Linked DNA regions of Homo sapiens: region 1 is linked to region 2. The links come from fine-mapping of genetic effects on gene expression. A gene starts in region 2. The other region holds a variant in brackets. All regions are shown on one strand. Distances are between the middles of the regions. Region 1 overlaps KMO (kynurenine 3-monooxygenase). Region 2 holds the start of CHML (CHM like Rab escort protein).

Region 1 (8,340 bases), 100 kb after region 2:
TTTTGATCTTTGGGTATATCAATGCAATGAGAAGAATCAGACTGTTAACTCTACTTACAATGCAATAAGCACATCAGTGTCTTCATACTTTGTTAGTAAATATTACATCTTCCAGAATTGCATATGTTATGCCAAATATTGTTTTATTATTTAATCCTTACCCTGAGTTCTCTAATCTGTGTCATCTGGAATTGATCTCTAAAGCCAAGCAGTGGTCTTGATTTTCCCTCTTATGAGAAGGTGAATGATGCACATTCCTGAGTGCTCTTAAGAAAATTTATGACTTTTACTCTAGTCTTGATCTTCGTCCTGAACTCCATCTGTGACTACTGAACCTGTCTATAGGCATCTCCCTCTCAACATAGCTAAAAGTTGACTTATTCCCATTCCTCAGCCCTCTCATTCTCCTTCTTCTGTATTCTGTATTCCATAAACTTTCTTCCTCCTTATATATTTCATATCTTAGAGAATAGCAATTGCATTCACTAATTCACCCAACCAGGGTAGCTCGGTGAATATTTAACACCCCTCTCTACCTACCAGTATACATGAAGCTAGGCAATACGTCCTATTGATTGTTCCTCTTCAGTCTCTCTCACAGCAGATCTTCTGCTACCCACAGCTCTGTCCTTACATGGGGCCCTCATTAGCTTTTACCAGGCTACTGCAACCGTTTTCTAATAACCCTCTTTCCCCAGTCTGTATGCATTCAATCTGTACTCTGCACTAGAACTAGTCATCTTCTTTTTATTTTCTTTTTAGACAGGGTCTTGTTCTGTCACCCAGGCAGGCATGCAAGGCTGAGATCATAGTTCACTGCAACCTTGAACTCCTGGGTTCAAGTGATCTCCTGCCTTGGCCTCCCAAGTAGCTGTGATTACAGGTGTGCTGCTATGCCTGGCTAATTTTTTTAATTTTTGTAGAGACAGGATCTTGCTATGTTGCCAAGGCTGGTCTCAAACCCCTGGGTTCATGTGATCCTTCTGCCTCGGCCCCCCAAACAGCTGAGATTATAGGCATGAACCATCATGCCCAATCACTAATTATCTTCTAAATAAGATGTTGAATGATTATTTTTGTCTTACAGTTGTTTATTAGCTCCTTATCTTTTCAGGAAAAAATTCCAAATTTTCAATATGACATAATGGATTCTTACATGTGATCCCAACCTCTTTCTCCAGTTCATTATGCACTATTCTCATGCACTATCTCATGCACTATTCTCTTGCACCATCTGTAATAGGCATACTAAATTTACTATATGTTTTCTGAATATGCCATGCACTTTTATTCTTCCATGCCTTTGAATACTATCCTTCCCTGCCTTATATTCAGTTTTTGGAAAATGCCTACCTTTCCTTTAAGACTCATATCCTCAGTGTAGTTTTTCCTGATACCTCTACTCCTCCAAAAGACTTGTTTGCCTTTTCTTCTGTAATTATATATATATATGTATATAGATGTGTTTTAATGTCTCAAGTACATTGAATTATTTATTTATAGTCTTGTCTGACTTCCACCAGGCAGTAAATTCCCAGAGAGGAATAATATTTGCATGGCTTGTATTTTGTCTTTTTATCTCTGATATAAACCACAAATTCTAATGAATTAGAAAATACAGGTAAATGTGAAGAAAAAAATAATTCCTCACAATTTTACCACCAATGGCAACCAATATTAACATTTTCTATGTATATAAAATACATGATATTTCTTTTCAAAATGGTAACAGGTTGTATATTTTCTTTCATAATTTCTTTCAAAAAATGAAAAGTGTACTCTAAATACATTTCCACGTCAAAAGATGTCTGAAGTAAAAGCATTTAATACTTGCATTACATTTGATTGTAGGCAGTGTGCTTATATTTGGATATTCAAGTTATTTTAATTCTTTAGCATTATAGACAATTGTATGACGCATACACGTTTCTTTTGATAAAATCTCACTAATGAAATGGCCCACCAAAGGGCAATTTTGAATAAAAGGGATTGAAACACTGGCCAATTCCGAGCTCCACACCCTCCTTCTACCTGCCCCGTTGGCTCCTGGGCCTTATTACTAGTGGGGGAATGGAGTAAGGATAACAGGGGAATGAGAAAACAAAGAGGGAAAGAAGAGAGTCTGAAGTGAGCTGCGGAGAGAATATTGATGGTCTAGAGCGTAAGAGGAGCCTGCTCAATCTTCCTTTGTCTTGCTTTTGGAATAACTGCAAAGCACACGAAAGAGATTCAGATTGACTGGGGCAATATCATTTCAGAAGGTTTTGTTGGGAGTTTTGAATACACTCCAGATTTGATGTTTTTGAGAGCCTACATTAGATTCTATTTGCTTTTAATTTCTCATTGGCTGAAGGACAGTTGTTACTCTGAATGCAATGCCATGCTTAGGCCAACTTCAAGGGTGAAGTAGCTATTGCTGCTTTCTGGAATTTTTTTGAGACGGAGTCTCACTCCGTTGCCCAGACTGGAATGCAGTGGCACGATCTCAGCTCACTGAAACCTTTGCCTCCCAGGTTCAAGCAATTCTCCTGCCTCAGCCTCCCGAATAACTGGGACTACAGGCACACACTGCCATGCCTGGCTAATTTTTTTGTGTTTCAGTAGAGATGGGGTTTCACTGTGTTACCCAGACTGGTCTCGAACTCTTGAGCTCAGGCAATCCACCCACCTCGGACTCCCAAAGTGCTAGGATTACAGGCCTGAGCCACCGTGCCCAGCCAAATCCCCACTATTTTTAAGACTACAGATGTGTATATTTTCAAGTTGTTTTCCAGGAAAAAAATACCGGCTTAGATTACCATCAACAGTGTATGAGGGTGCTCTTTTTCTTTGAGTAGACAGATAGAGGACTAGACGAATGCATGAGTGAATATGGACAGAAGGGAAATAATCTGAGAGTATTTGGGAGGAGGATGCGCCAAATGAGAAGGAATGAAAGACACACTCTTTGTAGGCACTTAACAAAGTCTGGAGCTGTCTAAAGTTGTTGGTTCCATTCCAGATACTTCCCACCAGATAGCAAATGAAGGAATCTCTGAGGGATGAATTCCCTGAGGTGAGAGTGGGATTTATGAGGCACAGCCACAAAGAAATCCATTCCACCTCTGTTTTTAGAAGGTGCTAGATATGGGCCACTAATGAGAGTTTTTCATATTTAAGAAGGCTCAGAGCCTATGAAATAGAAAACTGAAACCCAGGTCTAACATGGTGAGGCCCACCAAACAGCCTGCCTTGCTTGCTTTTTATTGCTTACTTCTAGTTGATCTCAAAGCCCATATAGCTAAAAGTCATGTAGCCAAACAATATACATCTAATCTGTCACTAGCTTCCTTATAGACAACGTCTCTGGCATGTATGTCACTATGGTAATAGTTGCTTAAAGTTTTTGTTTTTGTTTTTGTTTTCAGGAACTAGGTGTTCTTACCCAAGTTAAACTACTTGAAAGAGACCACCAACCCTCTTTCTACCTTGCCCATTGACTCCTGGGCCTTATTACTATGGAGTAAGGATAATAGGAGAATGAGAAAGCAGATAGAAGAAGGAAAGAAGAGAGTTGCAGGCCCTTCAACTGGGCCTGCACAAATGCCCAAGAAGTGACTTTCTGATACCAGAAGGCCAAAAACCTCACCTTCACAGCATGCTAATGCCACCATTTTCTGAACATGTGTCCTATGAAGAGTCATGAACCTTGATTATGCATGCTCAGACCACCTATTCATTTTTCCCCACTGCTAATCACCTTCCCCACACCTTAGACCACCCTGCTTCTTTACCCCATAAATATCTCTAAGCCCTATCTTTGGAGAGGTGGATTTGAAAGCTGTTCTTCCATCTCCTTGCTGGGCTGTCCTGTGAATAAAATCTTCTCTTTACTGCAAAACTTGTTGATATGGTTTGGTTGTGTCCCCACCCAAATCTCATCTTGAATTGTAGCTTCCATAATCCTCATGTGTTGTGGGAGGGACCCAGCGGTAGGTAATTGAATCATGGGATTGGGTCTTTCCCATGCTGTTCTCGTGATAGTGAATGAGTCTCATGAAATCTGATGATTTTATAAAGGAGAGTTCCCCTGCATGCCGTCTCTTGCCTGCCACCATGTAAGACATGCCTTTTGCCTTTCACCATCATCATGAGACCTCCCCAGTCACGTGGAACTGAGTCCATTAAACCTCTTTTTCTTTATAAATTGCCCAGTCTCAGGTAGGTCTTTATCAGCAACATGAAAACGGATTAATACACTTGTTATCTCAGTAACTGACTTACTGCATGCTGGGCAGAACAAGCCTAGTTTGGTATCAAAACAAGAGTAGAGCAAATAGAGCTTAGTTTATTTTCACATTGATAAAATAATAACAATAAAGGTTAACAGTAATTATGTCTTTTTCATGGTATAGCTCATTAATATTTGCAAAAAATATAAAGTATGCACTTGAATCAAATTCTGTGTAGACCTCAACCCAGGATTATAAGCCATTTGATGGTTCATATGCACTGAGGACGTTTACTTCAGGGAAAGTGAAAATTCTGGGTGACATTTGATTTCTTTTTTTAGAAAGGAGTAGGTTGAGAACAAAGCTAGAGATCTGTGAGCGAGAAAGTGTGAAAAAGAAGCAGTA[G/A]AATTTTAGTGTTAAAAGACTAGCAATCTAGTTTTAGTCCAAGAGGAAGAAACTGAGACCCATAGGGTAAGATTTCCTGAGTGTCCAGCTGGTTGCAAACTCTGCTATTCCCAGTCCCCTCAATGAATAATGTTTTTTCCATCCCATGAAGCTGAGTGAAGAGTAAGTGGTGAGGTGGAAAAATCCTAAGAAGAACAGAACAGAAACACCATTTGGGGACAGTTTGGCATCAAGACCATTTTGAGCCTATAAATCCATGACAGGATTTAACATCTATAGCTGTGAGACATAAACTCTCATAGAGTCAAGGTCAAGTTGCCTCAAAAGCAATTTCATCAGCAGAGGCCACTGACTTGACTTGAATTCCAGGGGGCAGGGCACAATTATCAACAATAAGTCAAAATACGTACAAATCTCCTCACCCTCTAAATACTACTAAATGGAGAACTTTCCTGGGTCAAACATAGGGAGAGTAGATCACAAAGCTCTCTACAGTGGGGTTTCTTTTTTGCAGAAAGGAACAGAAGAAATATTTGAATGATATCCTAAAATACATCTCCAAAATACATGCTAGAATAGTGGACATACATTGCAACAGCAGGAGTCAGCTGAGACTGGAATGCTTAATAGCCCTCTTACCAAGGCTCTTGGCTTCAGTCAAAAAATGGTGTCTTGAGTAGCTTTAGCTGTCACTGAAATGGTGCCTTTTTGCTCTGATCACTTTCGTCATACCTGTAAACACTGAAAACAGTTATCAAAAGCAGTATTTTCTGAGTCTTAAGGACTGAATTCAGATGTGGATTAAGGACACTTGTTTAGCTTAGATGGCCTTTGTTTACTTCTCTGGCTTGTCTACTTCTCTCTCACTTCATAAAGAAAAGAAAACATATCACTCTAACATGAAGTAAGGCAGTTTGTATGGCAGTTTTTTTGTAATGCAGGTTTTTTTTGAAATGATGTGCTAGAATTGAAAAGCTACACTGTAGAACTCCTTCCAGCATGCAAAATTGAGATTATTTTCCAAATCCTTTTTTAAGTTACTCATTGAAAGGACTACATTCCTCATGACATAATTGTGTTAAAAAAAAAACTCTTTAAAAATTTCCCATAACTTCTAAAGGAGTGATTCTCCACTTTGTTCTGAAATCAAACTCATGCACAGAAAATATTTTAGTGTGGCTCACATTATAAGGCACTGGGAAACCTTTATAAAGGTAGCAGGAGCCAAAGATAAAATAATCTTTAGATCTACGAAGTAAAAAGCTTCTATGGGGAATAAACTATGCATAACAAAATTTTAATAGAAGGCAGCATTTGATAATGACAAACAAAGCCCTGTGGGCATTTAAAGAGAGGAGAAGCCTTCACAGGTTGATTGTCCTGCAGTTACCTTCTGGAACTAGCAGGAGGTAATCCCATTGGCTGGAGAAGGGATGGGGGAGTTGTAATTCACACAAGGAGGAAAATATCAGTCAATACAGGGGTCTTTCTAAATATTTAGGTCAATGTTCTTGAAATGCTATTTTAACATCTTTTCCCACTTGTTTTTCAATATTTAAACTTTACCTGGTTTATGATTATGGTTTAGTTTCTTTTACCTTTTGTTTCTCATTAGGAGTTTTTTTACTGGTTTGTTGATCTCTTTGACTGAACATGTCTTCAAAGAAAGGAAATCAACTGGTTTAACCCAATATCAGATGATCACTACATCAGAGCAAGAATAACTTCTCAGGGTGACTTTTCATTAGGCAAGTTTACTAGACATGGTAAGCTACCACTGATAAGAATTGAGGGAAGTTCACTATATTTTTTGGATGTCTAAGTAAAGGTTCTCAACTCTCATTTTTTTTTCTAGGGGCCAGGGGAGAGCCTTTAATGTGTTAGACAGTATAAGGTACTGGGATATGGTTTATGGAAAGGAGGAGGTAGGAAGGGAGGGTGGAAAAAAAAACAGAAGAAGATGGGCAAAAATGTAATCTTGTCCTCTATGTAAAGACATTAACCTTCTTGAATTGCTCTATTTAGTCAATACTTTTAAAAATAATTTTCTCAATATTCAAACATGCATCTGTTATTATTTTTTCACCTTTATATCATTAAGTTTTCTCATTCCTCTCATTTATTCATCCACCCAATACATAATGTTAGGCATAATTACAGCCTCTGGAATACATTGGTTAATAAGAGTTTATATCCTAGTTGGAGTAGATATCTAAGAAACAGGTTAAAAAAAAAAACCCAAAGTGTGTAATTTCCGATACTGGTAGATAAGATTAACAAATAAAAAGGGAAAGGGGTGAAGCCAGAAAGGCAGATAGGCTTAGTTCAGACAAGACCTTTGGTAAAGAGTTTGGGTTTTATTTTATTTGTAATGGGAGATCATTGGAAGATTTTAAGCAGGGGATGATAATGATCAGACTCATGTTTTAGAAGGGTGTTTCTGGCTGTGGTGTGTAGTATGGACTATAAGGGAAAAGGAGTTAAAGCTGGGAGACTAATTTGGAGCTTGTTGCAGGAATAAGGATGGCGGATGATAATGGCTTGGGCCAGGATGGTTGTAATGGCTAGAATTTAAATGTATTTTGGATATAGAGCCTCAAGGCTTACTGATGGAGTGAAAGAAGAATAAGCGTTTGCACAAAATGACAATAGGAATCAAACATGATGCGTAAGCATGGACTTGAACAATAGGATGGATAGAATTCTTTTGCAGAGGAATTTTAGTTGCTCCCTAATACGCAAGTAGTAATTTTTGTCTCCTATTTTCCAGCATATGTATGACGTGGTTACATGATGACAATCTCATGTTATTCAGGGAGAAATCCATGGATGACACCCACATTTTTATGCCCCCCAAAACCATATATACAATCACATATTTGTTATCTCTCCCTTGGATTTCTAAGAGACAATTTTTAAAATGAGACATCACTGCTGCCACCTTAGTCCAAGTCTTGAGCTAACGTAACAGCCTCCTAACTGGTCTATCTTGTCATCTTAAAATGTTCCTAGTCATTCTCCACATAATGGTCCAAGGGACCTTTTAAAATCACAACTTAATTTCCTGCCTAAAATCCTCCAATAGTTTCCCATTGTAATTTGAACAAAATCTGATCTTCTTGCCTGGACCTCTAAGATCCTACAAGATCTGGTCTGTCAGCTTTTCTGGCCTCATCAGCTACTCTTCTCTGGCCTCAGGCAGTTCCTGCCTTTCTTTCTGCTCCTTGAACTTGGGCAGCTCATTATTGCCTGAGGGTTTCTCTTCCTGCTGTTCCCTCTGCCTGAAATGCTCTTTCTCAAGATCTTCACGTAGTTAGTTCTATCTGATCATTCAGGTCTCTGGTCACATGTCCCTTCAGCAGAGCAGCTGTCCCTGACCACATTCTAAACAGGTACTCCCAAAGATACTCTCTACAGCACTACCCTGTTTTCGTTTCTTTCATAGTGCTTCTCTTTAACTGAAATTGTCTTATTTGTTTTCTTCTTCCTTGTCTTTTTCTTCTCTGGAATTCTCACCCTCGCATCCCTACTACCTAAAACAATATTGGTACATAGTAATCAGATTTTGTTGAACACATGAATTCTCATTTTGTGCAACATTTTGATAGGACAGATTGGACACAAGCCTAGTATGAAGCAGTGACGACACATGTCCCAACCAGTGACCAACACATCATGTGATAGCATTTCTAAATGAAAATTTAGAATCAGAAATATTAAAAGA
Region 2 (8,340 bases):
CCAAAGCACTGGGATTACAGGAATGAGCTCACAATAATTCTATGTTTAACTTTTTGTGGAACTACCAAATTGTCTTCCACAGGAGCCACACCATTTCACATTCCCATCAGCAGTACGACAGGGTTCTAATTTCTACACATCTCCACACAAAAACCAACACTTGTTTTTGTGTTTTGTTTTGTTTTTTGATGATAGCCCTTCTAGTAGGTGTGAAGTGGTATGTCATTGTGGCTTTGATTTGCATTTCCCTAATGACTAATCACAGTAAGTTTCCTTCCATGTGCTTTTAGGCCATTAGTATATTTTTGGAGTAATGTCTACTCAGATCCTTTGCCTATTTCTGAATTGGGTTGTGTGGAGTTTTTTGTTGTTGAGTTGTAGGGGGTCTTTATAATATTGATGCCTTATCAGATATATGACTTGCAAGTATTTCTCCCATTTGCTGTGCTGTCTTTTCACTCTTTTGATAGTGCCCTTTGATGCATAACAGTTTTTAATTTTGATAAAGTCCAATTTAGCTATTTTTCTCCTGTTGCCTGTGCTTTTGGTGTCATACCCAAGAAGTTTTCTTCTAAAAGTTTTATAGTTTTAGCTTTTACATATAGGTCTCCAATCAATTTTGAGTTAATTTTTATATATGATATAATGTAAGGCTCCAACTTCATTCATTTGCACATGGATATGCAGTTTTCCCAGCATCATTTGTTGAAAAGACTGTCCTTTCCTCCTTTCCCCATTGAATGGCCTTGGCATCCTTGTCAAAAATCAATGGACCATATATGTAAGAGTTTATATCTTGGCTCTCTATTCTATTCCATTGGTCTACATGTTTGTCCTTATGCTGTGTATTAGGCTGTTCTTGCACTGCTGTAAATACCTGAGACTGGGTAATTTATAAAGAAAAGCGATTTAATTGGCTCACAGTTCTGCAGGCTGTACAGGAAGCATGGTGTTGGCATCTACTCAGCTTCTGGGGAGGCCTCAGGGAGCTTTTACTCATGGTGGAAGGCAAAGTGAGAGCAGGCATCTCACATGGCGACAACCAGATAGGGAGAGAGAGAGAGAGAGAGTGGGATGGCGGAGTTGCCACACACTTTTAGATGACCAGAGCTCACTTATCACAAAGGGGATGGCCCAGGCCATTCATGAGGGATCCGCCCCCTATGACCAAAACACCTACCACTAGGACCCACCTCTAATATTGGGGATTATATTTCAACATGAGATTTGGGTGGGGACAAACATCCAAACTATATCATGCTGGTGTTTTTCATTTGTTTGTTTTTTGTTTTTTTTTTTAATAAAAGATTGTAGTGTTCTGCCATTATCCTGTCATTACATAATTCTAAAATTAAAAAAGAAACATATATCCTTATCATTGCCTGTTTCTGTCAAGCTCAATAAATGTCCTTAATGGTTCATAGTATTGTAAAATTACTGTGTCAAAAATGCTTAAGCATTTGTCAAAGGCCTCTTACTCCTCCTTTGCATTCACTGCTAGTAGGCATTGCCCTGGACTTTACTCTGATTGAGTAAAAGCCAAAGTCCTTTTATTGAAATGGCCAAGGTCCTGCATATTCTGGCCATTCACTGCACACCCACCTGACTGGCTGCATTTCCCGATTCTCATTCTTGCTTCCTTATTGTTCCTCCAACATACCAATACAGTACTCCTGCCCATAACCACCTTGTCTAAATAACAACCTTGACAGAGCAGGTGCATCACCATCATGGACAAGCACTGCCATTTTAAAGTTCCCCTTGATCAAAAACCACCTAAATCCAAACAGCATCAGCCTAATGGCTAAGGTCAGCATGACCATACACCACAAATGACATCTCCGACCAGAAACATTCCAACCCTAAGATAAACCCCTCCCTGACCAGAGACATGCGAGCCCCGAGATAACCTCCCCTCCGACAGAGACATTCCAACTTGGCAATAAACTTCTTCTCCAAACAGAAACATTCCACGCCTGTGATAAGCTCTCTCACTCTAAAATCCTTAAATACTCTTAGTCTGTAAGAGAGTGCTCCTGACCGAAATCGGCCAGAAGCCCCTCTTAGGTTTATTCTTCCAAATAACACTGTCTGACTGTTGAGCTGCTATTAGTGTTTCTTTCCTCTTTCTTTAACTCTTACAAACTCCTTGCCCCATCTCCCATAGCTCCTGGCTCAACCTCCTGAGTAGCTGGGACCACAGACATGTACCATCTTGCCTGGCTAATTTTCTATTTTTTGAAGAGTTAGGGGGCAGTTCTCACTTTGTTGCCCAGGCTGGTCTTGAACTCCTGGGCTTAAGAAATCCTACTGCCTCGGCCTCCCAAAGTGCTGGGGTTACAGGAATGAGCCACCACGCCTGACCCCTATTTCTTCATGGCATTTGTCAGTGGCTGACACCCTACGTATTTATCTAATTTTTGTTTGTTCTCCCAACACGACTGGAATGTGAGCTTTATAAGGGCAATGACTCAGCAATGAAGAATGAATAGGAAAAAATATAGCGAGTTCTTTATTCATTCATTCAAATTACTATTTATTGAGAACTTACTGTAGACTAGACACAGAAAACACTTTCGACATTAAACATATAGAACTTGTTAAATAGTTATGTTTTGTTCAGTGGTTGTACAAATCTAAAATTAACAATTAAAAGTGTGTGTGTGTTTTTTAAGGGGTGGGTGGGTAGGAAGTCTCACAGATGGCGAGTCCAGAGCAGAAGCCTTGAAGGAAAATCAAGGTGTCAAAGGCAGAGCACACTGCCCCTTAGCTATTGCTCAGTGCACCAGGGTGGAGAGCTGCTGCCAGCCTATTAGATCCTCTCTCCAGGGAATTCAGAATGTGGATTGATCCAAGCTAGTCATTCCCTACTGATCTTTCAAACAGAGGTGAGGCACGCCCGTATGGAGAGCAGTTTCTTTAGCTTGCACAAACCCTGTGTTCGTCACCAGTGTCCAGGACAGGCTGCAGGTGTGGCTGGGGACTGTGATCTTCTTGTAGGGCCTCCTTAGGGATTGTGCAACCACAAAGGCAGAAGCAGCTCTTGCAGAGTGTGATGACGTTCACAACCTATATTTGACTTGTACTATATTCTCATCACTACAGGAGAAGAGGCCCAATGGGAAATGTGTGCTGTTCTAAATATAGCACCTGCCTCCTATACCTGCTAGATTTAGGTTGAATCTTTCACTGCCTGTGAAGGACTTTAGCAGGCCTCAGTGACCGGAAAGATCTACCCACGCTTTCAAGCACAGGAAGGACGGTATTGGAAGGCCTTGGGGTCCAGCCCAGGGCTTAAAGTCAGTTCCATTGGAATGCCATTTTCAGAGAGTTTTCATCCCAGACTCTCCAAGGGTGGCAGGCTCTTGTATCAGCCCTGGGACATGTGTCCTCTAGCAGTCAGGTAGTTAGGCAGGCACCTGTCTATCAATTTGTTGTTTTTCTTCTCAGTTTTCCGGTAAGACTACCCCGAGCTCTTCAATGTTTTCTTTGCTTTTGTTTACATTGAGTGTATGACGCGGGATGGGCTTCGTAGGCTGGTTGTGGGTTATTACAGCTTCCCAGGAAGGGGAGAAACCCAATTCTTGCCAGCACGTGGTGGGCGCAGGCGCTCATAAATACTTAGGAATAAATGAATGTATAAGTGAGTGCATGAATGGGTGAGTGGACACGAAGCTTTCAAGGTGGGTGCAGGGAGGTGGGGGTGTGAAGAGCCATCGAGGCTACCCTGCGGCCCTGGCCCCCAGGCTATCCCGCGACGCGCGTCCACGCCGACCAGCGGAAGGTGCCCAGCCAGTGGGGGCGGGGCGAGCTAGCCGCGAGGACGCGCCCGCGGGGGGGCGGGGCTAAGAGGACGCGCCGGGAGCAGCGGAGCGACGAGGACAGGCCGCGGGGAGGGGCGGGGCCACGGGGGGTGCGCCGGGCGGAAGGGGCGGGAAGAGGGCGGGCCCGGCGCGCGGTAGCGCGGGCCCCTCAGTGCACAATGGCTAGAGCAGGCGGCGGAGCCCCAACCCCACCCAGTGCGGAGCGCGCCGCGAGCCCCGCCGCAAGCTGAGCGCCTCCGCCCGCCAGGCGCGCCGGCGCCGGGCCATGTACTCGGGGAACCGCAGCGGCGGCCACGGCTACTGGGACGGCGGCGGGGCCGCGGGCGCTGAGGGGCCGGCGCCGGCGGGGACACTGAGCCCCGCGCCCCTCTTCAGCCCCGGCACCTACGAGCGCCTGGCGCTGCTGCTGGGCTCCATTGGGCTGCTGGGCGTCGGCAACAACCTGCTGGTGCTCGTCCTCTACTACAAGTTCCAGCGGCTCCGCACTCCCACTCACCTCCTCCTGGTCAACATCAGCCTCAGCGACCTGCTGGTGTCCCTCTTCGGGGTCACCTTTACCTTCGTGTCCTGCCTGAGGAACGGCTGGGTGTGGGACACCGTGGGCTGCGTGTGGGACGGGTTTAGCGGCAGCCTCTTCGGTGAGTTGGACTGGGAGAAGGCAGCCTCCCCTCTGCAAACTTCCACTCCCCACCCCGCTGCCCGCTCCGTGCGTCCGCCCCCCAGCCCGCCCCGCACCGCTTCCCGCTCGGCCCCGCGCCCCCCGCCCTACACCGCCCCGCTCCCCGCTCGCCTCCTCAACGCTGCCCGACCCCAGCCGCATGGCGGGTGCCTTCCTCTTCCTCCGTCCCCTCCCGCCCCACGCTGTCCAGGACTCCATTCCTGTGGTCTCTCATCTGCCCCCCACGTTGACCCCAAACCCCGGCCCGCCTCCTTTCTTATTTGTTTTTACCTCCTAAGATCACTCAACAAGGCACGAAACCACGGCTTTTTACACTTTGAGGAAAGAGACGAGGGCCTGTAGAGTCAAGAGATTCAAGAAAAAAAGTGATTAACTCGTGAAAGTTGGAGGGAGTGATGAGATTAGATTCATGTACTACTATTTGTTTCCTAAAATGAGAGTAGAAAACCAAAATAACAATGTGTAAAAAAAAATTCTCATTAGTACTTGTAAACCTTTGAATGCTTTCTAGGGAATGAGACAGTTTCATTCAGGTCCTCAGAATGCAAATTGGCATGTGCCCTGTAAGCTGTTTTTACTATTTTCCGTCTTATAGATGGGTTCCAGCACACCAGAATCTTGGGTGAGATTACAAATGGCTCAGCCAATACCATCTCAGGTGAACAAATACTGTAATTAGCTCTGCAATCGGTAGATTTCATTAAAGTAGAACTTCATTGTTGAAGATGTATTTCGACAGTACTCTTATTATGGAAGATTTAAGTTTCACTGAGACATGATGTTTTGAAGGATGATCAACAACTCAGCAAATCATTGAAGGAAGCGTAGAAAGGAAATTATTTTTTTGTGTGCCTCAGGAATTTCATTTGTAGGGAGATTTGAAATAGAAATGTGTATTTCTCAAGGCTTAAAGTTCCTTTTTTAAATCCTGAAATCCATTGATACTTTATTGCTTTAATCTTGGTAGGTTTGGGAGAACAAAAATCTTTGTAGAATTATCAAAAATATTTTCTTATTCAGTAACCTCTATGCTATGACAAACCCAAATATTATATTTGTAATGATTCATTTTTTGGCGTTTTGAAGGAAATAAGAAAATAGATTTTATTTGATTGCTTCAGAGGTTATAATATTTTCCTCCCCGCCCCTCATAAGCTTTAATCTGATAATTTCATTTGAACAAACATTTGAAATTTAGGGAGGGGACTGCAAGTGTATGTAGGCTGTGGTATGGACGACTATGGGATTACACTCCTTATATTAATTGTAAAATACCTATCAGGCAGTTTCTTCGGCAATGCTAAGAAGGTTATTCAAGCCCAAGCCTAAAGTATCATCAGTAGTGTTCTCCAGGGTAGTCAACAGGTGTTTGTTCACAGACATCAAAGTTCTTTTTTCCTTGAAGTGCCTTTTCTGTGCTGGAAAATTCTGTTTTCGTGCCCGGGAGTTTGAACACAAGGGTGTACTGAGTTCTTTATAAGTGCTAGCTGTCATCCACCCTCTTCCTCACCTCTTTCCTCTGCTGATCCCACCCTCCTGTGTCTCCTGGTCACTTCTCCCTTCCTGTTTTTCTTCTTCACCATCCCTCCTAGGGTCCCAGCCCAGTGATTTTCTAAGTTCACTTAGATTTTTGCCTGAGGGCTGCCCTATTTTTCAGGGCATTTAGTGCTTTCAACCATGACTTTCTCCCTGTTTTTAATGTAGAGGTGGAAACCCTGAGATAAGAGATTCCGAGACTTAAGCCCTGGGGGGCAAGTTAGTAGTGAAGTTACTATAGAGTTTAAAAAGTTTTTAGCGAAGATGATTTCTTTGCCTGGAGTAAATTCCGGAGTTTGTGCTTCTAGATCCAGGTTAAGGATGAAGAAAAGGAGGGCACTTCCTGAGTTATCCCTGAGCAAGAACTACCTAACAGTGGAGTATTGAAGGGGAGGAAGTTAAAAATGAGGGAAGTAGCTTCTTGATGCAGAGGCTTTTGGAGAGGCTTGCCCTATCTGTTGGAAAGACCATTGGTCTGATGGCACAAGAGTGGATCCTGTTCCTTATCCTGCGACTCATGCATTGTGCGGGCTTTCTCAAGTCACTTAATCTCTCCAGCTATCAGTTCTCTCATCTCTATTATTGGGTAATTCAGCTTAATGCTCTGTAAGGCCATCCTACTTGCTTTGCATTTTGATGACCCCTTTGATATCTGTAGGTTAGAACGTGCCTGATCTTAGCGCTTATTGATTGTGTCTTCTGCTCCTACTCCTACCCTGAGCCCTGTCTTTCTAAGCCAAGAAGCAGCATGTACTATGGTTACACCTCTTCAGATACCATCATAGATTCAGTCTCCATCTTCACACCCTGCTGGAAGAAGCAGAATAAGTAATTCAGACATACTTATATTTATACTTGAGTGGGCCAGGCAACTGCTGCATTCTGTACTTAGTTCCTGGCTTCTTAGGGAATGCCAAAAATGAGTGGAATCCTTGATATTTTTGAGACAGAGGCTTTGACTAGACAGGACTGTTAGGATTGCCATTTTAGTTAAACTAAAGGTGTGTGCCCTATGCAATTTAATCTAAGTTCCAATTGAATGGCTTGTTTTTCCAGTATCCAGGATTATTAGTCATCTTGGGCTAGACAGGTACAGCTTGTACTGATTTATATTTCAGTAGGTTTAACAGTAGTGAAAACCAGAGCTCAAAACTGTGCAATGATGAATATTAGAAAGTTTAGCAGTATTGTTGCTTTAGCCTAAAGACTTTCAGGTGAGTATGCTCTTCAGCACCTTGGCCTTTCTACCTCTGGCCACACAGGGCATCACACAGATGTCTTCCGCACATGGAATGTAACCAGCATTATGCTCAAAGTTAACAGGAGAACCTTATTATTTTTTTTTTTTTAAACTTCCCCTTCAAAAATAAGAACAAACAGTGTTAGTCTTGGCAGAGGATGTTTAGATAGACCTTTTGCTTGGGATGCAGAGATTCAGGGTTGCAGAGACAGTGGCGAAATGCAAACATCACTGTATTCAAATGTTAGAAGTAGGTATTATTTATGTTAAGATATTTTAATATGAAATCAGAAGTTTTCCTTTTTTACTTACACTTACACACTTTTTTCCTTTATTACTTATATGCATGTGTACATTCATATAATATTTTTAATACATTTTCCTCCTCAGGGCTATTATGAGCCTAAATATTTTTAAATGGCCAGTTGTTTTACTGAATTAATCCTTTTGTAATAATCTGACTAGTAATTGAGTAGAAATAGTCTCATGTTGCTACCATGAGATCCTAAGGGTGGTTGTGGCATGGAAAGGTCTTATATTCAGCTGTTCTGGAATCACACATAGACTGTAATGGCCACAGAAATATTTTGAATCATGGCAGTATGCACATAGTTTATAATCTGTTTCTATAAACAGTGGAGCCATGCGTTCCTTTTAGTCTAAGCTCACAGCTGTGTATAGATTTATTCACATGATAGTTTTCTTAAAAGCTAAAGTTAGAGAATTGTATTATGTTATTTCTTCTTTATTTTTGTGGAACATTATGTTCATTCTCTATTACTATGTTGCCTGATTCTTGGGAGGGCTGTTATATCTCTATTGTCCATTCTCAAGAAATTAGAAAATATGTGAGAAAGCATTTAAGACATGCTTTAGTAGAGGTTTATGTCCAAATAAGATGTCACACTCCAATGGATTGTCATTGTTGCATGAAATTATTTTTCTCTTATATTGTTTACAATGTATTCTTTCTTGAATTTTCTTCTTTCAGAGAAGAGTTCCAGTCACAAATGCATATATGATGCATTTTGACATTTACTGCTAAGATGAAATGCAGAAAT

What was found.
Region 1: its variant is fine-mapped to the expression of CHML in whole blood (INTERVAL, PIP above 0.99).

Annotation. Positions count from the first base shown.
Region 1 is chr1:241,533,480-241,541,819 of GRCh38, reverse strand. All of the region lies in intron 1 of KMO (kynurenine 3-monooxygenase), which reads right to left. Among named protein-coding and RNA genes, the nearest start is that of KMO, 5.3 kb to the right of the region's middle. The variant G/A (reference allele first, on the strand shown) is at 4,617.
Region 2 is chr1:241,636,004-241,644,343 of GRCh38, reverse strand. CHML (CHM like Rab escort protein) reads left to right here and starts at 3,975. Exons shown (of 2, transcript NM_001381853.1): 1 at 3,975-4,462; 2 at 8,271-8,340. It overlaps OPN3 (opsin 3), which reads left to right and starts at 3,975. Exons shown (of 4, transcript NM_014322.3): 1 at 3,975-4,462. The coding sequence starts at 4,090. RefSeq lists silencers at 3,646-4,225, 4,556-4,605 and enhancers at 3,708-4,277, 4,278-4,848.